Linked DNA regions of Homo sapiens. The protein of the gene in region 7 interacts with the protein of the main gene of each other region in a biochemical or structural test. Each region holds a gene or a part of one and is shown on either strand. Other genes may lie near its edges. The genes, in order: RAB3C, BORA, ADPRHL1, RAB40B, ALDH1L2, CDC40 and CRYAA.

Region 1 (3,500 bases), on a different chromosome or scaffold from region 7:
ATTAAAGCACAATGAGATGACAAGCCATCTGTGCTAAATATATTTCCAAATAAGTGATTTGTGAGAGTTGTTAAACAATCATAACTACCTACAACTAAATAATTTCCAGCACACTTATATTATAGCATAATGCAAGGATTCCTGGAATTATCATAGGAATGCCTATACTTAAGCATACCACTGTTGCTCCTCATTATTTCTTCTCCTGCATGCCTTCAATGTGAACTCTTTCAAAAACATTTCACCATCCCAGATGCATCACTCAAGATTGCCATTTTCAAAAAAAATAACCACCACATTAGTCAAGAAGACTCTTAATTAGCGCAGTGTTAGAATGTGATAGACCTAGCTTGGAATCCCCTCTTAGCCATTCAGCATGTGCAACCCTGAACAAGTTATTTCACTTATTTAACTGTCCTACATGCAGATTTCTCAGGTAAAATAGGATAGTAATAAATTAAAAGTTGGGTTGTGAGAATTAGAAATAAGGCAAAGATAATGCCTAACATATGGTATGTATTCAATAAATGCTAGCTATGCATAATATTTATACAATTTGATATTTGCTTATAGAAGTACATAATTATCCAACGAGTGTTAATTTCCTTTTCTAACTATACTACAAGTTCCATAAGCACAAAATCTTTGTATTGTACTTCTTTTAAATGTTTCACAATCTAACAGACCACAATAGTACATATAATAGTATACAGTATTGTATACACTATTATAAAACTGATTTTCACACTCCTAAAATCAGATGTGCCTTAAGAGCTCCTAATGTACCTAAAGAGGAAGAAATTGGATTATGTTTTAATTGCAATGATAGTAATGGCTATTAATCTACTATTGTGACTGACGATGGGGGAAAGTGAAGGATTCCCAAGTGGCTGAACCCTGATGGGAGTGTGGGCATCCACAGAGCAGGAGAATGGAGGCCCTAGAATGAGGTCCCAGGCCTGACTGTCTATAGACTTAAAGGGTTTTTTTTTTAATAAGAAACTAGTAGATTGTAGAAGATTAGAGGCAAATCTGAAGATAATAATATTTCAGAGACTTTTTCATGAACTTATGGAAACTGAGCAGCATGAGGAGGTATTAGAGTAGAAGCAGCTCAGGGATCTGAGCTTTGGTTGGCTCAGAGAAGAGCTATATTCATCCAGAAGTGAGATGTAGACATAAATAACTTATTTCAATGCCAAAAAAAAAAGGTGAGTGAATTAGCACTGGCCTGGTACCAGCATTGTTTTAAAGAAAATAATTTTTAAGTGTGAAAAATAATTTATATTATTTGAAATATATCTGATTTACATTGAAGATAGATAATTTTGCACCTCAACAAAGAATTTCTGTCAAAAACCTACACTGAAAATTTGCCAGAAATTATAAGACTGGCTTAACACACCATGCTGATGCTTTATCTAAATGATTCTAACCACTATTTTTAATTATCTCTATGACAGAAAGAAGAGAGGAAAAAGTGGAGCTATCAACCAGAGGAATGATTGTTCTTTCATATTAGTAAAAAGAACATTGTCATGGAGTTAAGGGATGTATCGTTTCCAAATTAATTTAATTTTCCATTCACCAAAGCCCCTGAGAATTAAGGAACCTTCCTTAAAACTTAATACGAAATGTATCATATAACAATTGGATTGCCTGCAATTCAAAAGGAAGAGAATGAATCAGGACCCATACTTGAAGCAATGGACAAAGCTTTTTCTGTCTCCATACAGAGGAGTGTGTGATAGGTATCTCCATTAATTGAGGTCAAGTTTCTGAAAAGGAACACTCCCAATAAAAATGGCTTTGGGGAATGATGGAGCAGGGAATATGCCCAGCCTAAGGTCTACTTGTACAAATTCTTACGTGATTTATAATTAGATTTGAAAGACTCTAGAGTTAGAACAAGTAAAATAGTAACAGCCTATTGTAAGCTACATAAGAAGGTACCTGTCTGTGTATATACCTGCCTCTTTAAATATTACTTTAAATTTCTACTTTAATAAGACCTTTAGGATGTGTAAAGGTCATTCAGTTTATACAGATTTTTAAATAAAGGGCTGTTTTCTTTTTTAAAAAAGTTAAAATCCTCTACTCTGCGATTTGTTTGTTTTTTGTTTTTAGCTTTCCATATTTATGAAGGGAGGGTTATTGTCAGTCCTATTGATCAATCCTGGCACCAGCACCAAATGGTAGTAGCTGTTGTAAATGTCTCAGAAGGAGCTAGAAAACACCTCTTGGGAAATGCCTGATTACAGATCAAATCAATTTGAGTGGCAGAGGTACAAAGGAATAGGAAAAAGGTGCCAAAACTTACTGTAGAAACATTCTTCCTATGTACATATTACGATGTCCATAAAATATTTACTACATCAGTCTTTTTTGGTGTAACAATTTTTTTAAATTGGCTGCTCCATCTTTTATATTGCCTTGGACCTGCTATCCACATAGATTTTCCTCTGTTTTTTGCTCACTGGTCTCCTAAATTTATCCCACCAGTTTGGCTAAGCTACCTCTGATCTTCTTCTGGAGGTAAGGAGAGGCAAAAAGCTAACCAAATGGTCTCAAAACTTTGGGAGAACCTTCTACTTTGGAAAGACCCTGTTTCAAATAAATATTTCATTTCATTTGTTTTATTTGCATATATAAACATAGCTCTTAGAGTTGAAAACAGTTTGCACAGTATAAATAGACCATCTCTGAAGTTCTATCTGGAGCTTTATGAAGGGTCTAAACCTACACTTTTCCTATATTTGGTTGTTTATCTTCTTCTTTGAAATGCCCAGGAGAGGCTGCTTTCTGTGACCTAAAAACCCAGAACCACTTAGCTTATTTTATAGATTACAAAAATGTCAGAGAAGGAGTCACAGACTTTCTCAAGGTTACAGAGATCATAAAAGGCAAAGCCAGACTTAAAGTGTTCCTTCCACCACCAACAAGATAGAGGTTTGGATTTTTTTTTTATTCTGAAGACTCTTAAGGAGCACCACATGACAACAAGGCATAATAATAATTCACCCCTCATGTCTTAAAGAGGCATCACCACTACTTTCTTTGAAACAGAATGTTCTGCAGCAAAGAAGCTGGAAATTGAGGCTTGTGGATGCCCTGGGGATAGAACAAGGCAGAAAGTTTCTCCCTTACAAATGGATATGTTCAACACCCCAGCCTGAAGAACACTGCCAGTTCAAAGCCACTTACCCAAATCTGAAGCTTGATTCTCTTTTCATTTTTGAATACAGTTTTTACTTTGAAATCGATCCCAACTGTGCTGACGAATGCAGATGTAAAGGAGTCATCTGCATAACGGAATAGAAAAGATGTTTTCCCCACACTGCTATTGCCGATGATGAGTAATTTGAACATGTAGTCAAAGTTCTGATCAGAGGAGTCTTTCTGGCCGTACCTGGCATCTTGGGCAGAGGCCATCTGTGATAAAAACAAAACAAAACAAAAACAAAATAGGTGTAGATCAGACTCTCATTTGATATGAAGCT
Region 2 (3,500 bases), on a different chromosome or scaffold from region 7:
ATCAAAGTGAAAAAAAAATTCATTTGGAAAAAATGTTATATTGTCAGTGTTTTATTTCAGAGTTAATATTTTTGACTGTTTAGAACTGTGAACTATCCTCATCTATTTTACAGTAAAAGTTGATTCTAAAATTATTGCCATGATAAACTTGTTATAATTGAAGAGAAAAACTTTGGACAATTTTTAGATGTATGTTGAATTAAATACTTCTTAATTTGTATTAAGGGACAAAGTTTATCAAATTTATATTGTTAAAAGCAATTTAATATCAATGTAAGTCTTTTGAAATAAAGTATCATTGCATTCAAACTTTGAATGGAAAAGAGGGAGGTAAGCCTAACAGCTAACTGCTGAATTTCAGAATACTGCCTAAATGTTACTAAATGTTACAAGATACCACTAGTATTAATTATAAAGTGAGCTTAACATTTGCCAGTTTTCAATGAAGGGAGATTATTTATTTGAAAGGTTATTTTTTAAAATGTTCAATAAGCTTAAGTAATAGCATGGTTATTTTTCTTCTTTATCTTTGTATAGAATAGATAAAGATGTGGAAGACAAAAGACAAAAAGCCATTGAAGAGGTAACTTAAACTGTTACTGATCATTAAATCAGTTAAGGATCAATTCTGCATGTACATCACTTCTTTTAGGAAGACTTTCTTCAATTCCTTCACTGTCCTATCTCCCCTCCAAGCCCTTCACAGTCCCATCTATATAAAGCACCCTTCTGTACTGTCCTAAGACCAATAATTTCCAGCTATCCCAGTACCTTGCATAGCACTTGCATACTGTTGTAATGATCAGTTTAGTGTTTCTGTCCCCTAGACGCAATCTTTTTTGGCCAATACTGTACTTCATCCTTTCATTCTCAGGACCTAGCACAATTTGTCTTCCTTGTGCCTTCAAAATGTTGATTAGCACAAACTTTGTTTCAAGTTGGAGTTTATGTAGAGGAAGTCGAATATTCTCAGGCCTTCAGAGTCTAGATTGGCATTGGGAATGGCTTTGTCTTTTTTTGTTAATACTTTGGATTTTTAAGATATTCATGAAATAAAATCTCTTACTGTTAAACAGGAAAGGTATATCATAATGTAGGCTTTCTAAAAAATAAAAATAATTAAGTTTTTTGCTTTTTTATGTCTGTTGAATTGCCTTTCTTAGCATCTAAATAAGGTTATTATTATTATTATTTTTTGTTTTTTGAGACGGCGTTTCGTTCTTGTTGCCCAGGCTGGAGTGCAATGGCATGATCTCAGCCCACTGCAGTCTCCGCCTCCCAGGTTCAAGTGATTCTCCTGCCTCAGTCTCCCGAGTAGCTGGGATTACAGGCATGCGCCACCACACGCAGCTAATTTTGTATTTTTAGTAGAGACGGGATTTCTCCATCTTGGTCAAGCTGGTCTCGAACTCCCGACCTCAGATGATCCGCCTACCTTGGCCTCCCAAAGTGCTGGGATTACAGGCGTGAGCCACTGCGCCTGGCCCAGCATCTAAGTAAGGGTTACTTACCTTGTTCTTTCCTCAGAAAGTCTTTATGTGATGGCAGCATTTCTGATTTTTACTTTTCTGCCCCTCTAGCCCCCTCAACCCTCCTCTGTTCCTTAGCCGTACTTGGCTCTTCCGTACCACAAAAGACTATGTTTACTCCTGCTAAACATTACCTACTTCTTCTTCTATCTAGTAACTGCACAGTTTTCATTCTGACTCAGTCACTTGGTTCTTCCCCACCTGAATATTCTCAGACTCTCAAAATTTCCAACATTTTGAAAAAATACTTTCTTTAAGAATCCTTAATTTTAAAGAGAAACCCAGCAGGTAAACTTAAGAAAATTTGTTTCTTTTCAATATATATTTTTGAAAATAGAAGAAACATATACATATAGTAAAAACAAAAAGAAAAAATATAAAATAAAAAGCCTCCTGTTTCCCCATCCCACTTCATGAAGGTAATGACTATAACATTTCTTATGTGTACTTTCAGATTAATTTTACTTATTTAATAGCATATGTCCTTAAAATATTTTCGACAAATAGGATTATCATTCTCATACTATTATCGTTCTCATACTGCATCCTCCTTTTTTTGCTTCATGATTTTTCTTAGAAATTTTTGATAACCAGCATATACAGATTTTTACATTCTCTTAGCAACAGCATAGTTACCTAGCCCCTGTTGACAGATGTTTAAATTGTGTTTATTATTTTTCTGTCACAAATAATGCTGCAGTGATTTGTATATATATCTTTATATTCTTGAAATGGACCTAGTAAGTCAGAGGCTTTGTGAATTTTCAGTTTTGGTAGATTTTACCATATTGCCCTCCTAAAAGGTTATACCAGTTTATACTCCTGATTACAGTGTGACACTGCTTGATTTTCCATATCTCCAATATTGATTATTATCAGAATTCTTAATTTGTTCTACTCCTATTACTTTAAAAATGACTTTTTTTTTTTGTATTTCTTTACTTTTGAGTGAACTTATACATCACTTTGTAAGTTTATAGGTCCTTTAATTTTTTTTCTGGTAATTGTCTATATCTGCCCCAGTCCACCTTTAAAAAAAAAAAAAAAAAGAATCTTTTCCTCTTAGATTCATGGGTAATTTAGTTAAGAAAATTAGCTCTTTGTCATATGTATAGCAAAATATGAAGAAAATATGTTTGGTTACTTGCAAAACCTAGGGAAGGGAAAACACTGTGGTAGAAATGAAAGAGGAAAGAAAAGTATACAAATGCTCTATCTCATTTGAATATACTGGCCAGTAGTGTGCTGGTGAATGTTTAACAACTTGCTCTCTGGTCGTGGAAGGAGTACGATTTATAGCGATTCCTGCTATCCATAGTGTAAGTACTCCAACCATGGCCAGTTTCAAGCTACTGATGTGACATCACTGAATGGGAAAGGAAGAATAGTGGCACACCATTATATGTAGGAATTCCACCATACAGATACAAAATACATTATTAACCTCAAGAGCATAGACATTGATAAATATATAAAATAATTAGCAAGTGGTGAGTTTTGGATATTTGTTACCTTTATTTTTAATATATTTAATTGTAAGTTTACATAATTTTATTTTTAATATTGGTTTTAACAACTGGTGCACAGAATTCTTGAAAATTTAATAATCAGATCTTGAGAGCCAGAACAAACAAGCCAGCTTCAGTGCCGTCATTCATACTGGCCTACTTGCATGTCTCTGTCTTAATATATTCCTTCCCTTTTCATCCTTTTTTTTGTAACCCCATCAAAAAAACCTGGGAAAGAAATTTAAAATACTTTGTCTATGATTAATCCTCTTAGTTTAGTTTGCAAGTTTCAAATTTAACTGGTTGATTTGAAGTATTAAGATTCCTCTTTATATATACTTTAAATTTCTTCCATTTTTCCTTTGGTCATTTGTATTAAAATTTTTGCATACAGTTATAAAGTTAGTATATGACATGTTTAATAATTACTTGGAAAAACACAGGTACCGTCTCACATTTTGGG
Region 3 (3,962 bases), on a different chromosome or scaffold from region 7:
CAGCTTATGCCATTATTTCTGCATATCAGGGACTATTAGTACTGATAGTACTAATTTTTCACTAATTTACTACTGCTATCTAGAAGGCAGAGCCAGGTGTACAGGATGGAACATGAAGGCAGACTAGGAGTGTGACCACTGAAGCACAGCATCACAGGGAGACGGTTAGGCCTCCGGATAACTGCGGGCGAGCCTGACTCATGTCAGGCCCTCCACAAGAGGTGGAAGAGCAGTCTTCTCTAAACTCCCCTGGGGAAAGGGAGACCCCCCCCCCCTTCCTGGTCTGCTAAGTAGCAGGTGTTGTTCCTTGCCACCTTTTGCTACTGCTGGACCACGATCCGCCTGGTAACGGGCGTCTTCCCAGACGCTGGCGTCACAGCTAGACCAAGGAGCCATCTGGTGGCCCTGTCCGGGCATAACAGAAGGCTCGCACTCTTGTCTTCTGGTCACACCTCACTATGTCCCCTCAGCTCCTATCTCTGTATGGCCTGGTTTTTCCTAGGCTATGATTATAGAGCGAGGATTATCATAATATTGGAATAAAAAGTAATTGCTACAAACTAATGATTAATGATATTCATATATAATCATATCTAAGATCTATATCTGGTATAACTATTCTTGTTTTATTATACTGGAACAGCTCGTGTCCTCTGTCTCTTGCCTCAGTGCCTGGGTGGCTTGCCGCCCACAGTAAGCAATTCCAGGGGTGATCTTGGATGCGTATTTTCTCATGACCCACAAACTAGACGCTGCAGCAGCACAGTGAACCCTCCCTTCCAGTCCACAGCTGAGGACCCTGAGAGCTTAGAGCAAACTTACTTCCTCCTTAAGAATAGCGCCCCATGGTGGCTCACGCCTGTCATCCCAGCACTTTGGGAAGCTGAGGTGGGTGGATCACTTGAGGTCAGGAGTTCGAGACCAGCCTGGACAACGTGGTGAAACCCCGTCTCTACTAAAAATACAAAAATCAGCCGGGCGTGGTGGTGGGCACCTGTAGCCCCAGCTACTCAGGAGGCTGAGGCAGGAGAATCACTTGAACCTGGGAGGTGGAGGTTGCAGTGAGCTGAGATCACGCCACTGCACTCCAGCCTGGGCGATGGAGAAAGACTCCGTCTCAAAAAACAAACAAAAAACAGTGCCCTAAACGTCCGTAACCCTTTTAACTGTGTGAATTTCGTGTCCTGTTGGGCCGATCTCCGTCGGTGCACTTTTGGAGTGTCCTGTGCCGCTGCCCTCCCTGCGGGCCTGGCAGGACCAGACCCACAGCCATGGACGCTGCCATTTACAAAACGCCCACCAAGTGCTACCAGAAATGGGACATGCAGAGCTGGTATGAGCGCACACACGGCATCAGACGCCCAGAGGAAGCCAAACTCAAGAGTGAGCTCCAGCCGTCTACGGTGAAAACAAGCCGGAGCTGTGTCCCACAGGTGTCTGTGTGTGGGGTGCACCTGTTCTGGGCTGCGGGGCACAAGCATGGGGTTGCTGGTCCTAAGGGCACACGAGTGGCCGCCTGGAAAACCAGAAGCAGGAGCTCCTGGACGCCAAGGCTGTGAACAGTCGGACGCCTCCCCGTCTCCAGCAAGCCGGGAGCCTTATCTTATCGCCGGCGCTTCAGCTCTCCCGTTATTTAGGGACCGGCCACAGGCTCGATGGCATTCCTCTGCTGTGAGCACAGAACTAAACTGGGCACGTCCATGGCAGATGAACAGAATGGTGGAGTGAACGCATAAGTGAGATTTCATTGACTTAGCTGCAGCCCTCAGATTTTAATTCTGCCATGATAAACAGCACCCACGGGGTTTTGAAGAGCAAATGCCTCGTAGGAAAGCTGGACTGCATGTCTGTGCACCTGCCATTTCCCTGAAATTCATGCAAAAGCTTGATCCTAAAATCAATTTGCTACTTAAAGGTATTTTAAGAAGCTTTGTCTCCAATCTCGTCCAATCAAGTTTATGTCATTTTCTTAGAACACATTTGTGTATGGGCAACTCTCCAAGCTGAACCATTTTGGGAGATGATATTCTAACTTTAATTCATTGGAATTTAGAACTAATCCCCAAACAGTATTAATGGGTTCACATTTCAAACTGGCTTATTTTACATCCCTTTGTAATGAATTCAGAACAAGAAGGCTTAATCTCTGCAGCGAGAAGTGAGCCCTCACCCTACTCCCACCAGCACGGCCGAGAGAGGCTTCACTGGCTTTAACTCTATTAGAAACAGAAGGTGCTAGGCCTAGTTAACGCTTTACAAATACAAGTGAAAAGTCACGTTTAAAAACTGAATCTTAATAACTGCAAAGTAAAGTAATACTGTCACCCTCAGAGAAACCACAGGAGAAACGTGATCTGCCGCATATCAAATTTGAGGGACACTCAGATTAAATTGCCACTTTTAGCAGCGGTATCAGGTAACACCATCCGCTGAAGGACCGCACTGCCTTCAAAGCTCTCGGAGGCTTACTGGGAGAACTCGAGCAGCCAGTGTTCCCTCCAGCCCGCACACCGGAGCGCGGTGGGCCCAGCCTACCTGTGGTGAGGGCCTCGGCGGTTGCGATGTGCATGATGGTGTTGTCACTCACGGGCCATTCTCCTGGCGAGAGTACGAGGTGGTCCAGGCCCCCGGAACGTTGCAGCTCCTCCTGGATCTTCATGCCTACAGTGCTGTTCTCCTTGCAGACATTTCTGTAGCCAAGAGCATCGCCGACGCTCCCCAGCAACATCGCAGCCTTAAATTTCTCCATCCCAGGAGGCAGCTCCTCTTCCCCAACAGCTGCGGAGCGTCCTGGCCTTTGTCTCCTCCTCAGCCCGCCTGACTTTTATAGTGGTCACTGTGTCACTGTCAGGAGCGTCCTCTGATGGCCAGGCGCTCCTTGTCTATCTCTGCAGGTGGCACCAATGAGAGGACCTTTCTGTCCCCCACGTGGGAGGTGTCAGTTTTCTTCTGCGTCTGGACAGGCACCAGCTCCTCAGCAGAGGAGCCTGCTAGCTTCTGCCGGCAGCCGCAGCACATTCAGAGCGTTGACAGAGCAGGGGCTCCTCTCGCTGTCCCTGGAAGGAGTGCGCACACTTCCCCGTGTGTGGCGTGGGGTGATGCGGGAGCAGATGTGTGCAGGCGTGCCTGTCACTGCCGCCCGCTGCGGGGCGTGCCCTCACCCCTCGGGCAACAACCCATCTGCTGTCTCTACAGTTCTGCCTTTCCTGGACATTTCAAATACAATGTGTGGCCTTCGGTGTCTGGCTTCCTTCACTCAACATAATGTTGAGATTAATCTGTGACATGCGGTTTTATCATTTAGAAAACTTTTCGATTATGAAATGTGTTTTTGATAGAAAACTTTTAAAAAATGCAGTGTAGAGGGAACAAAGTCTATCTAGCTCCTGTGTGAACAATGACGGTGTCTTCTCAGCATGCGGTGTTTAACGGCTCCCAAATAATTGGACTGCACTGAGGGGGAAAGTCGTCAGCAAACCGCAGGCTTCACTAGAACCTCCCATCCGGCCCTCGGTCAGCTCAGTGTATTTACATCATCCCTGCTAGCTCATGAAAAGAATATTAAAAAATATGGAGACGGGGGGTGAGGCAGAATGCACACAGCCAGGGTTCCTGGTTTGAAATAAATTAGGAAAACAGTCCATCTCCCGACCCCACCCCAGGACAGTTCTCCGCAGAGGCCGGGAGCCCAGCAGGGCTGTGTCTCTCCCGTCTCCTTCCTCGGGGCCTGGTTTCCATCAGACCCAGGGGAAGCAAAGAGTTACACCTGGACTGAAGAAATGCGTCTGATAAAAACTCTCGTAGTGTACAGCGAGACAGTAGGAAGCATTTAACCGCCTGGCGTTATATCAGCACTTGTTAAAACGGAGGATCTCAAGCAGTGAGTTCACCTCACCCTCCACTGTCTGCTGGTGGAGGCAGCCATCAGCACAGTCATGCCAGCTAGCATGATCCTGAGATTC
Region 4 (3,500 bases), on a different chromosome or scaffold from region 7:
TTCTCTGCCGCCCAGGCTGGAGTGCAGTGGTGTGATTGCAGATCACTGCAGCCTTGACCCTCCTGGGTTCAAGCCATCCTCCTTTTTTGGCCTCCTCAAATGCTGAGATTATAGGCCTGAGCCACAGCACCTGGCCATGTTTTTTTTTTTTTTTAATGACATGTTTCGCTGAGAAACACTATAGGTGCTTGTTATTGAAAGGTGAGGGCAGCCGGGCGCAGTGGCTCACAGCTGTAATCCCAGCACTTGGGGAGGCCAAGGTGGGCGGGTCATGAGGTCAGGAGTTTGAGACCAGCCTGGTCAACATGGTGAAACCCTATCTCTACTAAAAATACAAAAATTAGCTGGGCGTGGTGCCGCGTGCCTGTAATCCCAGCTACTTGGGAGGCTGAGGCAGGAGAATCGCTGGAACCCAGGAGGTGGAGGGTGAAGTGAGCTGAGATCACACCATTGCACTCCAGCCCAGCGACAGAGTGAGATTTTGTCTCGAAAAAAAAAAAAGAAAGAAAGAAAGAAAGAAAGATGAGGGCGTTCGTAACTCCACACTCCATTTCCCTCCACCCAATTCCTCCTGAGTTTTGTAGCCCAGGCTGTTATTTTTATATTGTCCAGGTTTATAGCCCTTGCTTCTGTATTGTGGCTGTAGTGCCCGCAATGATTTAGTATCAATTCAACATTTAAATACAGTCAGTGCTCACCAAAGTCCTTTTACCATTTATGTCTCTGTTCATTGTGCTGTCCCTCTTAATCACCTAGATTTCATTATCAGTCGTTTTTTCAGAAGGACTCGAGTATTTCCTGAGTGTTTTTTTGTGTCTGAGAATGTCTGCCCATGGTCTTTATCTTTGAACAATGTAGAGATATCTTGGCTGGGTATAATACTCTTAGATTTATTTTCTTCCCCAACACTTTGCAGCTGTCATTCCACCATCCCCTGGCTCACATGTGCTGTGGGGAAGCCTGAGGTCAGCTGATTTTTCCCCATGTGGAGGCTTGTCCTTCCCTTCATGAATTTCTGAGGAATTCTTTCTTTTTGTCTCATAGTTCTTCTGCTTAACCAGACCATGTCTCAGAGTTGAATGTTTGTGTTAAACTTTTAGTATGAACGTACTCTTTGAGTTTCCAGGTGTGTGTGTGTATGTGTGTGTGTATGTATTTTTTTTTTCTTAGATGTAGTCTCAATCTGTTGCCCAGGTTGGAGTGCAGTGGTGTGATCTCACCTCACTGCAACCTCCACCTCCCAGGTTCAAGTGATTCGCCTGCTTCAACCTCCCAGGTAGCTGGGATTACAGGTGCCTGCCACCACACTGGGCCAATTTGTTTTTGTATTTTTAGTAGAGACGGGGTTTCCATGTTGGCCAGGGTGGTCTCGAACCCCTAACCTCAGGTGATCTGCTTAGCTCAGCCTCCCAAAGTGCTGGGATTACAGGTGTGAGCCACAGTGCGCGGCCTGAATTTTTCTGATTATCTTATGCCTTTCCTATTTGTTGGTAATTTTGATTTCAGTAAACTGTTCTAGCTGTTTCTAACTTATTGATTAGTTCAGTAAAGATGTTATTTTTGTCTCCTAATTTTCTCTTAGTTTTGGAGTTTTCCTTTTTTTTTTTTTTTTTTTTGAGATGGAGTCTCGCTCTGTTGCCCAGGCTGGAGTGCAGTGGCACGATCTCAGCTCACTGCAACCTCTGCCTCCCAGGTTCAAGCGATTTTCCTGTCTCAGCCTCCTGAGTAGCTGGGACTACAGGTGTGCGCCACCACGCCTGGCTAATTTTTGTATTTTTAGTAGAGACGGGGTTTCACTTTGTTAGCCAGGATGGTCTGGAACTCCGGGCCTAAGGTGATCTGCCCGCCTCGGCCTCCCAAAGTGCTGGAATTACAGGCGTGAGCCACTGCGCCTGGCCAATGTGCACTTCTGTGACTGTGTCTCTGGCCCCCGTTATGTGAAAGAGACTCTCCCATGTTGTGTGAGGCTGTGGGGTGTTAATTCTCATGGTGGTGACATCCCTTTTGTGACTCTACCGTGATTTATTCTCCATCCTGCGGGTGACGGGCATTTGGGTGGTTTCAGGTTTCTGACTATTATGGTTTGTTCTGCCATGAACATTCCTAGTACACATCCTTTGCATTTCTGTTGAAAGGTCCCTATGCGTGTGAATCGCTGGGTATCAGGCACGCAAATGTCTGCACAGGTTTCCCTGTAGTAGATTCTCGCAAAGCATTTTTCACTTGGTGCTCCCACCAGCAAAGCTGGAGGCCCCGGCTGCATCATCTTCCCTCTCAGCACGGGGCTGTCTCTGTCCTTCTGTGGTGTGTAGTTTGCCTTTGCATTTCTCTGATGACTGAGCACCTTTTCATACGTCTATGCGAAATTCCTCTTTGGAAAAATGCCCAAGTCGGCCGGGCCTGGTGGCTCACGTCTGCAATCCCAGCACTTTCAGAGGCCGAGGCGGATGGATCACCAGAGGTCAAGAGTTCGAGACCAGCCTGGCTAACTTGGTGAAACCCCATCTCTACTAAAAATACAAAAAAAAATTAGCCAGGTGTGGTGGCGGGCACCTGTATTCCCAGCTACTCGGGAGACTGAGGCAGGAGAAGCACTTGAACCCGGGAGGCGGAGGTTGCAGTGAGCTGAGATCGCACCACTGCACACCAGCCTGGGCAACAGAGTGGGACTCTGTCTCCAAAAAAAAAGAAAAAAAATAGAAACAGAAAGAAGAAAAATGCCCAAGTCTTATGTCTGTTTTTTCATTTAGGTTGAATTTCTTTCAATGCTTGCTAGGAGTGTTTAAAATATAGATTCTGGCTGTGAGTCCTTTGTCGGCTGTGTGATCCTGGATAGCCACTCTCATCTGCACGTCACCTTTCCACTCCTTCAGTGGTATTTTTGGATGAACAGAAGCTCTTAATTTTAACATAATCCAAATTATCAGTGTTTTGTGGTTAGGACTTTGGGTCCTGTTGAACAAACCTTTGCTGCTCCCAGATTTAAAAAAAAAATGTTCTCTACAAGCATCGTTTTACCTTTGACATGAATGGCTGCCTCCAGCTGGGGTGAGGCCTGAGGCAGGGATCGAGACACACTTTTTTCAGTCGGATGCCCCCCACCCCCACCCCGCATCGCACGGCCACCGTTGTCCCAGCTGAGAGCCCGCCTGTGGGTCTGGGTCTGCACCGTTGGCCCGCCTGTCTCTTGTGTGTGTGCCCCGGGTCAGACTCTGTCTTCTGTGGATGGGCATGCCCTGTGCTGGCCAGGGCAGTCAGATGCATCTTGTCCTTGCTCAGGCAGCTGTGCCCAGGTGTTCCCTTTGCTCCGATACGGTCAGCGAGGCCTGGATTCTCCCTCCTGGGCGTTTGTCTTCCTCTCGGTCTGTAGTTGCAGGGCAGAGTTCTTGGATCTTGGACCCTGTCGGCAACTTGACTCCACAGACTATGTGGACCCCACTGCTCTGCCTGTCACCTCAGCCCACGGACCGTGCGGGCCCCACTGCTCTGCCTGTCACCTC
Region 5 (3,500 bases), on a different chromosome or scaffold from region 7:
TCCAGTCCAAAGAGGTGGGACCCTTCCTTGCTCTTTGGAACCAAGTACCTGCTTTATTTCTCAGTTCTAGGAACCAGGTTCTTGTTTCATCATTGCCCGACCTCTGCTCTGGTGTCTTATCTGTTCATAGGATCTCCAAATTCAGCTTTAAACTGTATTTAATTGTCTGTTATACACTGAGGACTCTAAATCCTGAGGATATAATATTAATAGATGCATTAATAAATGCTTTACATATACAATTGTCCCTTGTTGTCCCTTGTATTCATAGGGGATTGGTTTCAGGACCTCCCGTGGATATCAAAATCTGAAGATGTTCAAGTCCCTTATATAAAACGGGTAATATTTGTATATAACCTGTGCATATTCTCCTGTATACTTTAAATCATCCGTAGATAACTTATAATAATGAATACAAAGTAGATGCTATGTAAATAATTGTCCCACTGTATTGTTTATGGAATAATGACAAGAAAAATTATACATGTCTAGTACAGATGCAATTTTTTCCAAATGTTTTCGATTCATGGTTGGTTGAATCCACGGATACAGAACCCACAAATACAGAGGGCGACTGTGTACTCCTTTAATCCTCATGATATCTCAATGAAGTAGGTACTAGGTTAAGCATCCCAAATCTGAACATTTGAAATCTGAAATGCTTTAAAATCTGAACATTTTTGAGCACTGACATGACACTCAAAGGTAATGATCATTACAGCATTTTGGATTTCAGATTTTCAGATTTGGGATGCTCCAATGGTAAGTATAATGCAAACATTCCAAAGTCTGAAAATATCCGAAATCTGAAACACTTCTGGTTCCAAGCATTTTGGATAAGGGATTCTCAACCTAGATTATTATGACCATTTTGCTGATAAGAAAACTGAGACCCAGAAGTGAACTAACTTTTTCAGACTCTCATAACCCAAAAGATAAAACAATAAACAAGAAAGAAATAGTCCCATTTTCAAGGAGTTCATAGATTAGTGGGACAGACTATTAAATCTATGTTTTTAGGAAAAGAATAATAATACATAATACACTAACTAAAATGATATACCAAAAATGAAATATAAATGAGCAATAAAATATGAAAATACACTCAACCAAACTAGTAATCAGGCAAATGCAACTTAGAACAAGATACCATTTTTCACTCATCAGGGTGGCAAAAATCATAAATTTGACGATATTGTGTGTTTAGCAGGGGTGAGAAAACAGTTCATCCACTACTCTAGAGGTCAATTTGATGCTACATATTTAAATTAAATTTATGTTTAAAAATGATCCTGCAGTTTCACTTGTAGGTATCTGAGAAAAATACTTCTACATGGGCACAGGAAGCATGTACCATGATATTCATTGCCATGGTATTTGTAATAATGACATATTGAAAGCCAAAATGTTTCTCAATAGGGACATGAACAAATAAACTGAGATATAGCTACACTAAGGAATACTGTGCAAGAATTTCAAAGAATGAATTATATGTACGAACAAGGAAAGTTGTGGAACATTACGCATAATATTATTTCATTTGAATTATTTTTGGAAATACAAAACAATACTTTTTGTATATATTTCCATGTTTTTAAATGCCTAGGAAAGGTCTGTAGAATTCACACCAAACAATAGTAGTTTCCTCTGGGGAGTGAGAAGGGGATGCAGATTGGGAGTGATGGTCAAAAGGGACTGTAGTCTTATCTGTGATCTTTTCTTTTCGTAAGGAGCTTGTGTGTATATGTAATATGTATAATTAAAAATTAATTTTAAAAATTTTATACAATTAAAATATTATAGTAAATTCTGTGCATGGAAATCCTGCCTCTCTAGTACTGGAGTCCGTTTCTGGACTCGAGCCCTTTGGACTGTCTCTCCCTTTACTCAAAGTCTTTGAAGTGTTCTGTGGTCACCAGCCTCGGCCCAGGAGCTCTCTCCAGCCTCTGAGTCCTGGGCATCCCCCTCTGGCATCACCTGCTCATAGGCCCCTGTACTGACATCCCTCCTTTTAAAATATTTTATCCTTTTTATGATGAAAAAACAAAAGTTGGCCAGACATCCAAGAAAGCCCTCACTGATATCTTCTTTATATAATGAGGCAATAGGAACATCAAGTTGCGCAAGCTTGCCATTTAGGATGGTATCCTGAATCTTGCAGATCTACCTCTATGTAAAGTGTACTTGTTGCTTCTGTTAGTATGAGAGTTTGTTACAATTGGTTGCAAGAGCTTTCACACTATTCCAGACTATATCCTGTGACTATGCTACAGGTGGATTGCTAGGTCAGCTTTGATTTTCACGCTCTGCTCCATTCTCAACACAAGAGGTGTGTCTACCCGGAGCTAGTTCATGCCTCCAGAGTTACCTAAGCAGTCTATTAGCATAGAAACTAGACTCTCCTGGTTTCAATTAACTCTCCTGCTTAAAGCGGCTCAGTGAATCTCATTGTCTTCACAATAAGGTCCCAATTATTTGACACAAAGCGCTCCATAATGTCTCTTGCTACGGTGTCGCTTGTCACCACTCCTTAACTCCCAGTATTGGACACGCTGTGCACATGCATTTGTTTCTTTGTAAATACCGCACCCTCTGCCTGGAACTTCCCAAGCCTCTCCCTTTTCTCTGCCAACTCCCAAGATGGATTCTCTAAGATTCAGCTAAGTAACTCCCTTCTGGAGAAGGCTTCTCGTCTCTTAACCAAACTGTGCTCTCTTATTCTAGCACTGTTACTATGTCTTAGCTTGTGTGCCCTCCCTACTAGTTGGTGGATTCCCGAGTACAGGGACTGCTTCTTTTTATCTTTAGTGTAAGGGTCGCAAAGAGAAATTCCCACAGAGGCCAAACAGGTAAAGCAAATGAGAGATTTGAGCTGCATAGAGGGCAAGACCATGTCTAGGGTAAAGGGGCCACCACTGCTCAGCGCTAGCTGACTGTTGCTATACGGCGCCACAGACCAGGGTTGACAAACCTCCTGAGTTTTTTTGATTTTTGTTTTTTGAGACAGAGTCTTGCTCTGTCGCCCAGGCTGGAGTGCAATGGCGCGATCTCAGCTCACAGCAACTTCTGCCTCCCGGGTTCAAGCGATCCTCCTGCCTCAGCCTCCTGAGTAGCTGGGAATACAGGCACGCGCCACCATGCCCAGCTAATTTTTTTGTACTTTTCATAAAGATGGGATTTCACCATGTTGGCCAGGCTGGTCTTGAACTCCTGACCTCAGGTGATCGGCACCCAGCCAAACCTCCTGAGTTTTAAAGACAAGTTAGAAGTTGTGCCTTCTGAGGTGCAACCTCCTAAAAATCTTAACAGAGTCCTCTTAAAAATGCTTTGTGGGCCAAATAAAACACCCCTGCCAGGCCAGTAATGTGCCACCTCTACCATGCACTACGCCCAGAGTGTGGCAAAGCCTGAAAACATGCTTGTTGGATGAGTCTTGCACAGAGTCAGGCACAGTTTGGGGCACTCTGTGCCGGATGCTCCATGAAGTGTTAGGCACCTCA
Region 6 (3,500 bases), on a different chromosome or scaffold from region 7:
TGGCCTAGTTAGGGCTTCATTATATCTTGCCTGGCCTATTGTAATACTTCCTTATCTGCTTTAATACACCCTCACTTTTGTCATATTAGACTAATTGCTGATTTTTAAAAATAGCAAGCACTTTGATGCTTTCTGTGCTGTAGGCAATGTTACCGCCTTGTACCTTAGGCAATGCCTTTATTATTTTATGCCGCCTTCTTATTTTTCCTGATACCTTCCCTCCTCCTGCCTCAGGAAAACTGTTGGGTTTTTGTTTGTGGTCCTAAAAAAATGCTGTACTCTATTTGATAGTACTTGTGATATATTATTTGTTGCACATGGCTTTTATGTACATCATATATCCTCACTGCCCAGTAGAACGCAGGGCATTCAGCACATATTCAATAAATATTTGTTAAATTAAATTGAAGACAGAAAAGCCAAATCTGTAGAGAAATTAAGTAGGATAAGGCTGACCAACAATCATTGGATTTGGCAATTATGTCACAAAAAACCTTTGTGAGAGTGACTGTTAGTAAGGACTATGGAAAGCCAGCTGCAAGAGGCAGAGGTGTAAATGAGGATCTAGAAAAACACCACCATATAAATCTGTACTGAAAATATTTGGTGGTAAAAAACAGAACAGATGGGGTGTCAGGTTGAAGGATTTTCAGGGTCAAGTTTTTCTTCTTCCTTAAGAAGAGACTAAGTCAAAGATGTGGTCAATCGTAGGCTAGAAGGCAGGTGATGGCAGGGAGAGACACATGACAAAAAGGACCAGATAAAGGTACAGTTGCCCTAGAAGAGGTAGGAGGGAATAAAATTCAGGACACAGTTGGAAGATTAGCCTCTGAAAAGAGGAGTGCTCTCTTTGGGATGAAATAGAGATGACAAAGGTAAGAATGGGTGATAGATGACAGATGTTTGGAGGTGTTGGGAATCATAATTGATCCTTTTATTTTCTTGGTGTAGTCAGGGTACAGGCAAATTTATAAAGCAAGCATGGAGCTCCAGATTCATATATTCATTCAACAGATTTTGATTGTGTGCCTACTATGTGCCAGGCACTGTCCTGGGCCCACAGAAATAGACAAAGATACCTGCCCTTGTGGAGTTTATATTCTAGTGGAGGAGACAGACAATAGACTATATAATATATAAATAAGTTTACAGCTCTCTAGAAGAGGCTAAATAATATGAAAAAAAAGAATTTAACAACACTAACATGCTAGCACCAGAGCAGACACACTATTTCATATAATCTGTGAGGTTAAGTGTTAGCAGGATTAAGTCACTTAACCCAAGCTACTAATAGAATAAATGGGAAGGGGAAGAGCTCAAAGTAACCACAATGAACAATGTTAAAGAGATCTAACTAGTGACAAATTAAAAAATCACTGGCAGAGTAACTAGGTGTATCAGTCAGGGTTCTTAGTTGCAAGCAGCAGGCTGATTCAGCATTATAAAATCCTTATGAGTTTCTCTTAGAATTACCAGGAAGTGTGGAGAATCAGCTTTGACAAGTAGGCAGAAATAAAGGGTCAGTATACACTTAATAGATGAAATCACAATTCAAAATTAATCATCACAGAACCCATCCAGTGAGGATAATTGTTTACCATGACTGAACACCACTACTAAACTGCTATGGCTACCACTGGATGCTGCTATTGAAACTGCTGGCCTGAGAAACTAGAAAACATTGACCATCATTGCCAGTTTAAGTCCTCTTTCCTGGCTTCTTTGTGGATAAATTTCAGATTAGAAAGCTTAGGTTGGTACATCTGTTTGGCTGAGCCCAACAGATACACCCACCCAACAGTCCTGAGCCTCAGCTGAAAGGGAGCTGAATTAGAATAATCTGGGTTTTCAGCTTCTGAAGATGGGTGATGAACAGGGATGTTCTTCAAATTAAGACCCTTAAGAAAGGGGTTTCAAATGCTAGGCCATTGAAAAGATGACAAATATTATCTATATCACCCTAGAATGAACACTAGAATCTTTACTGATGAAAGATACTATCTTGCACATGGCCCAATAGCAAACTCAGTACTATAAAGTTAACAGGTTACATACAAATTGTTTAAACTGCATAAAAGCTAAATTAAATGCTTTTCCCGCTTAATATTCAACCCCTAGTGACAAACTGCTTAAAATAACATGAGGCTTAGCCACATTCATATCTTCCCAAAGGATTTTATAGTGTATAGTTGCTAGAACCACTTTATAATATGGGATATGAGATCTTTCCAATTAAGGGTATTTAAAATATTCCAAATTGAAATTATTTTGAAGAGTATCATGACACATCAATTTTTAAATGCAAAGTACAATTTAAGAAATTACTGTTTATATAAGCAACACTGGCAGCCAATAAAAAATATAAGTAAGTCCCAGTCTCTGACTCCTGCTAAAATTATAGAACAAATTGAACAACTCTCAAGAAAACGAAGGGCTGTTATTTTACAGAAATTTAATTAGAAAACTTGGACAATACCACAACCTTGTTTTAATACCCATGAGGCATTCAATACCAATTAGGTATGCAATTGGAATTACCACAGAATAACAAATTATTTCTATTCAGTTTCAATTATCCACAAAAATTAAAATGCAGTAAGTGAAGGGCACCCTGTGGGTCAAATAAGTTTAAATAGTTTATCTTTTTGTTGATTCAAAGTAATTTGAGAATAAAACTGGGTAATATTCACTTTTCAGTCTTTTCCACATTTCTTCCTGTGCCCAAATAAGAAAAGAGACATAAAAACACCATGTAAACTGTAAAGCAGATCACAAATATTATTATTATAAGTTACTTATCAATTTATGGCATAGTTTTTTTTCCTCCCAGAAAACAGAAATGACTAAACTTCCTAATAGAAGAATTTAGGTGAATGATATAAAAGAACAGAACTTCAGATAAAGATATCCTCTGAGTTTGGCCCTTAACAGATTGCAGAGGGAAAAGGTCGTCCATTTGAAGCTCACAAATATAGGAAATACCACACATGAAAAAACTGAAAAATATGCCTCAAAATTAGAGGCAGAATTTTTATTTTACTTTAGTTGGCTATGCTAAGGCAAAGAATACATTCGGGGGAAGTAACATAGTCACTGGTTGAAATGAGAGAAAGCCAGATCTGCTTTTGTTTTTGTAACCTTAAAGTCACTTAATAACCAACTCTTGCAATCCAATAGGGTCCACTGCATGATTTCTAAAGTGCAAAACCTTACAATGTTGCATGTAAAAATTTTTATTGGCTAACATGGTGAAACCCCGTCTCTACTAAAAATACAAAAAATTAGCCAGGCGTGGTGGCGGGTGCCTGTAGTCCCAGCTACTAGGGAGGCTGAGGCAGGAAAATGGTGTAAGCCCAGGAGGCAGAGCTTGCAGTGAGCGGAGATTGCGCCACTCAACTCCAGCCTGGGAGACAGCGAGACTCCGTCTCAAAGAAAAAAAAAAATTTTATCCAGAAAATACTCATTGTCATACATATACTGGAGAACACAAATATGTGTAA
Region 7 (4,178 bases):
CATGGCTTCACTCCAAAATCGCAGGATCATTCCAGACCAGGCCCCGCACCTCAGCCAGTCTTCCCCTTCCAGACCCCGCAGGACTGCTCTAGCCCAGGTCTCTGCAGCCCTACCTAATGTGGCCAGACGACCCACATGCTTCCACGTCCCCTGGACGCCCTAAACCGCAGACTCAGCTCCCTGGGCTGACCTCCTCCTCCACTGGGTGCAAAGACCAAGAGCTGGGAGCTCAGGAAGCATGTTCCAGGCTGGCTGGGGCTACGTGGGGGCTTTACCGGGCCCAGGCGAGGGAGGGGCAGCACATGAGGAGGTCAGCGTTCACCCCCCAGCACCACCTTCTCCAGCCATTGAAAGAGGACCCTGGCCAAAAGAAACCAAGACTTTGGCTAAGAGTTCCACCTTCCAGCCCCACTCTGCTCTCCAGCCCCCGCGGGGCACTGTCCATCTGTGACAGTCCATGAGCTCTTCCCGGCTCCGCCAGGAGATGCAGGTCACCAGGGCTCCAGTGCCCCGGCTCCCTCAACACCACGGAGATCCGAGGCCTCCAGCCGAGCAAGAGCGGGGCATCAGGGTGACTGTGGGGAGAAGCTCCCGTCCACCTGCCCGGTACTAGCTGTGGGACCCAGCAGGCTGAGGACCCCCTTGTTCCCCAGCCGTGCCCTGGAATAATGAGGACACTGGTTCCAAAGTGCTGCTGTGAGGCGAAGGTGTCAATGCCTGTAAAGCATTCCAAGCGGATGCAGCTATGCCGTCGGGGACTGGCTTCCTCAGGTAGGGTTCATGTGAAGATGTACACTGGCTAGGAGGCGGCCACCCGGGGCACTCCCACTTCCTGGGGTTCTTTCTAAGACCACCCTGGCATCCAGGTGACAGGGATGGAGCTGGCGACGGCTGGGTGCAGCCCGGGAAGGGACCCTAACCTGGATCCCTGAGCCACATTAGCTCGGGAATGGTGACCTCTGTCACCGGGAGGGGCTGGCTGTGCTCAGGTGGGCACGGCCCCTCCCTTGGGGAAAAGCCAGGCCTGATTCGGGGTCCCCTGGAGAGCGTCCCTCTCCCAGGGTTGAAGGCATGGTGCAGGTGTGCAGGCCCGGTCGTGCCCGCCGTGACCCCCTTGTCCTCGCGCCCAACTCGCCCCCCTCTCCCACCTCTCAGTGCCTGGGCTCACCTGGCGCTCGTTGTGCTTTCCGTGGATCTCCACAAAGTCGTCCTGCACCTTCACGGTGAGGTCCTCCGGGGAGAAGTGCTTCACATCGAGGAAGATGACGAACTTGTCCCGGTCGGATCGAACCTGAAATCCAAACGTGCCATGTGGAGCTGCCCAGAGGGTGCCGTCCCTGCTGGGGTTGGCAGAGACAGGGCGGGTCCCGGTTATCAGAACAGAGATGCTTCGGTCACCTGCCGGCCTCTTCTCCCACACACCAAGTGGGGCAGAGCTTTCGGGGGCCTGTGACTGTCTCCTGGACAGACAGGCATGACCCTCGACCTGTCTCCAAACCCTCAGGGCCAGCTGAGGGGCTGAATGCTACTGGTGGGCCGGCTGGTTGTTTGGCTATGGTCAGGTGGCTGGTTATAGATAAGTTGGCTGGTTATGGGCTGGCTGGCTACTGGTTATGGTAGGAGGGGTCGTTACGGGTTGGTTGGTCCGTTAGGGTCAATCGTCTGGCTGGTGATGCTTGGCTGGCTGGCTGGACTCAGCCTGTGGAATGAGGTCACTGCCCTTGGTGTCATGCTGTCTATAGAAGCGGCCGGAGCCTGCTGACAGCCTGCGCAGCTGCCTCTCCAAAACGCACTTCCACATGCTCCTTCTCACTCCCCTGGCTCAGCCTTGGCTCCCTGAGGCATTTTGCACCCTGGCGTTGATGCCTACTGCAGCAGCCCTGGGGAGGACCCTGTTTATGAGGTGCTGGGTGGGACTCAGGCCCTCCAGAACAGCAGAACCTGCACCGCTCACCCGTGGCTCAGAGAGGAGGCCTGTGGTTGGGTGGGGGGGGGGGCGTCCATTGCCTGTCCTTTTAGCCTTGGCAGGGCACCTAAGTAAACTTGCCAAGAGCTTTGCTAGCCGTGGGCAGGCCGAGCTCATTGGAGGAGGTGCTAGGAACGCCCTGCTCTCTGGCTTTCAGGACTATGACCCCCACCTGCTCCCAGGTCTCCGGGACTCAGGAGACCAGAGGAACCCGGGAGCTGGCATTCGCCACCACGCATGCCTGGATGGGCTGCTCTTGGGGTTTCCAGTATGTGGCTGGTGCCTTACAAAGCACACATGGGTCATGAGCTGATGGAGGAAAGCAAAGGTGGATTCAGGCTGCTCCCTTGTCCACCCTCTCCCCAGTGCCAGGGGAAGCTCTGCCACGTGGCTGCAGTGGGGACACAGGCTCTCGCCCAGCCTCTGCAAGGGGATGAAGTGGGACGAGGCCACCTGCCTGACGGAGCAAGACCAGAGTCCATCGCTCTCCACCCACCGAGGCCACCACCCTCTGAGCAGCGAGGAGAGGCCAGCACCACGGGCCACGTCTTACCTCAGAGATGCCGGAGTCCAGCACGGTGCGGAAGAGGGACTGGCGGTAGTAGGGGCTGATGGTGGACGACAGGAAGGGCAGCAGGTCATACTCAAAAAGGCCCTCGCCGAAAAACTGGTCGAACAGCCGGCTGGGGTAGAAGGGCCCCAGGGTGCGCTTGAACCAGGGGTGCTGGATGGTCACGTCCATGTTCAGCTTTGGTACCACGGGGACCTGGAGGCTGGCAGGAGTCAGCGGGGCCTCTGGGCAGCGCAGTGTGGAGCCAAGGCCGAGCCCTCCCTATATATGCCACCAGCAGAATGGAGGCATTAAGGGATTTCTCTGGAAAGGCGTGAGCTCATGAAGAAGGCTGCTCAGTCAGCAGAAACGTGGCTGGGACAAGTGCCCGCCCCCAGCCCCAGGAGGGGCTGCACGGACTGTCCCCGAGGCCTGGACTCAGCTGAGGCCCGCCTGGGCACCCTGGGGCTCCCGGGAGGGCAGACAACCCAAGGAGGCGCCTGTGCCCCATACTCGCCTGGGGCGACAATGGAGCTTCTCATCTGCCAGTCACTGGGCAGGGGCTACGTGCCAGGGACCATGCTAGTTCTCTGCACACCTTGTCCTGCCGGGGTGGTCCTCATGGTCGCCAGAGGAGGGAGAGCACACACCCCCGTTAGACACAGAGGTTAGACACATCGTCCTCAGAGTCTCACCGGGCCTGGGCAAGAGTGCACTGGTTTCCAAAGCGGAGTGCATCTGTGAACCTCCGTTACACTCACCACTTACAAAAGTACGCATGCTTGTTAAAACTCGTGGAGAAGAAGCTGCAAGGTGCCATAATTCCAGCACCTGGGGGAGCCCTATGGCGTTTCATGCTTGTCCTCCAGGGGTCACATGCCTCCAACAGGAAGACGGGCTGGGCTGTGGGCAGATGAGAGCACCACGTGGTGAGCTTCCCTCTGCGGCCCACCCTGGACGCCCAGCCCCATGGCCATCGTCCCCTCGATGTAACGCCTCGAGCGTTACATCTCGTAATGATGTAATGCCTTGATGTAACATCCCCACGTAACGCCTCGAGCCTCCGTGGCATGACCTGCCGTGGCTGTTGAGTTGGGCTGCTCCTGTCAGGGTGGCGACATGTCCCCACGTCCCTGTCACCCATGCGGACCCACCACCCACATGATCCTGTTATCCACAAGTCCTGGTGATTATTTTGCTCCTCGACCCATGGCCCCTGTCCAGTTCTCACTAAGTGTCCAGGCACTCCCGGTTTTGTTTGTTTGTTTTTGAGATGGAGTCTTGCTGTGTCACCCAGAGTGGCGCCCAGATCATATAGTGGCGCGATCTCAGCTCACTGCAACCTCTGCCTCCCAGGTTCAAACAATTCTCCCACCTCAGCCTCCTGAGTAGCTGAGACTGCAGGTGCCTGCCACCACACCTGGCTAATTATTATTATTATTATTATTATTATTATTTTTGTATTTTTAGTAGAGACAGGGTTTCACCGTGTTGGCCAGGCTGGTCTCAAACTCTTGACCTCAGGTGACCCACCTGCCTTGGCCTCTCAAAGTGTAGGATTACAGGCGTGAGCCACTGCACCTGGCTCACTCCTAGTTTTAAGTCTTTTGATATTTTGGTATTTTGATATTTTGGTAAACTGGCCCTGGGGAGCATGGTCCT

What was found.
Region 1: the proteins of CRYAA (region 7) and RAB3C form a complex in vitro, tested with the Homo sapiens proteins (one large-scale study listed by BioGRID).
Region 2: the proteins of CRYAA (region 7) and BORA form a complex in vitro, tested with the Homo sapiens proteins (one large-scale study listed by BioGRID).
Region 3: the proteins of CRYAA (region 7) and ADPRHL1 form a complex in vitro, tested with the Homo sapiens proteins (one large-scale study listed by BioGRID).
Region 4: the proteins of CRYAA (region 7) and RAB40B form a complex in vitro, tested with the Homo sapiens proteins (one large-scale study listed by BioGRID).
Region 5: the proteins of CRYAA (region 7) and ALDH1L2 form a complex in vitro, tested with the Homo sapiens proteins (one large-scale study listed by BioGRID).
Region 6: the proteins of CRYAA (region 7) and CDC40 form a complex in vitro, tested with the Homo sapiens proteins (one large-scale study listed by BioGRID).

Annotation. Positions count from the first base shown.
Region 1 is NC_000005.10:58,617,575-58,621,074, reverse strand, and holds part of RAB3C (ras-related protein Rab-3C), read right to left. Parts: intron 3,433-3,500; coding exon 3,205-3,432; intron 1-3,204.
Region 2 is NC_000013.11:72,734,423-72,737,922, forward strand, and holds part of BORA (protein aurora borealis), read left to right. Parts: intron 1-537; coding exon 538-583; intron 584-3,500. UniProt on the Homo sapiens protein: Required for the activation of AURKA at the onset of mitosis.
Region 3 is NC_000013.11:113,450,689-113,454,650, forward strand, and holds the start of ADPRHL1 (inactive ADP-ribosyltransferase ARH2), read right to left. Parts: upstream 2,801-3,962; 5' UTR 2,750-2,800; coding exon 2,536-2,749; intron 2,519-2,535; exon of another isoform or gene 1-2,518. UniProt on the Homo sapiens protein: Required for myofibril assembly and outgrowth of the cardiac chambers in the developing heart. Appears to be catalytically inactive, showing no activity against O-acetyl-ADP-ribose.
Region 4 is NC_000017.11:82,692,199-82,695,698, reverse strand, and holds part of RAB40B (ras-related protein Rab-40B), read left to right. Parts: intron 1-3,500. UniProt on the Homo sapiens protein: RAB40B small GTPase acts as substrate-recognition components of the ECS(RAB40B) E3 ubiquitin ligase complex which mediates the ubiquitination of target proteins.
Region 5 is NC_000012.12:105,077,959-105,081,458, reverse strand, and holds part of ALDH1L2 (mitochondrial 10-formyltetrahydrofolate dehydrogenase precursor), read left to right. Parts: intron 1-3,500. UniProt on the Homo sapiens protein: Mitochondrial 10-formyltetrahydrofolate dehydrogenase that catalyzes the NADP(+)-dependent conversion of 10-formyltetrahydrofolate to tetrahydrofolate and carbon dioxide.
Region 6 is NC_000006.12:110,186,927-110,190,426, reverse strand, and holds part of CDC40 (pre-mRNA-processing factor 17), read right to left. Parts: intron 1-3,500. UniProt on the Homo sapiens protein: Required for pre-mRNA splicing as component of the activated spliceosome. Plays an important role in embryonic brain development; this function does not require proline isomerization.
Region 7 is NC_000021.9:43,167,630-43,171,807, reverse strand, and holds the start of CRYAA (alpha-crystallin A chain), read right to left. Parts: upstream 2,801-4,178; 5' UTR 2,709-2,800; coding exon 2,520-2,708; intron 1,573-2,519; exon of another isoform or gene 1,477-1,572; coding exon of another isoform or gene 1,399-1,476; intron 1,292-1,398; coding exon 1,169-1,291; intron 772-1,168; exon of another isoform or gene 226-771; intron 1-225. UniProt on the Homo sapiens protein: Contributes to the transparency and refractive index of the lens. In its oxidized form (absence of intramolecular disulfide bond), acts as a chaperone, preventing aggregation of various proteins under a wide range of stress conditions.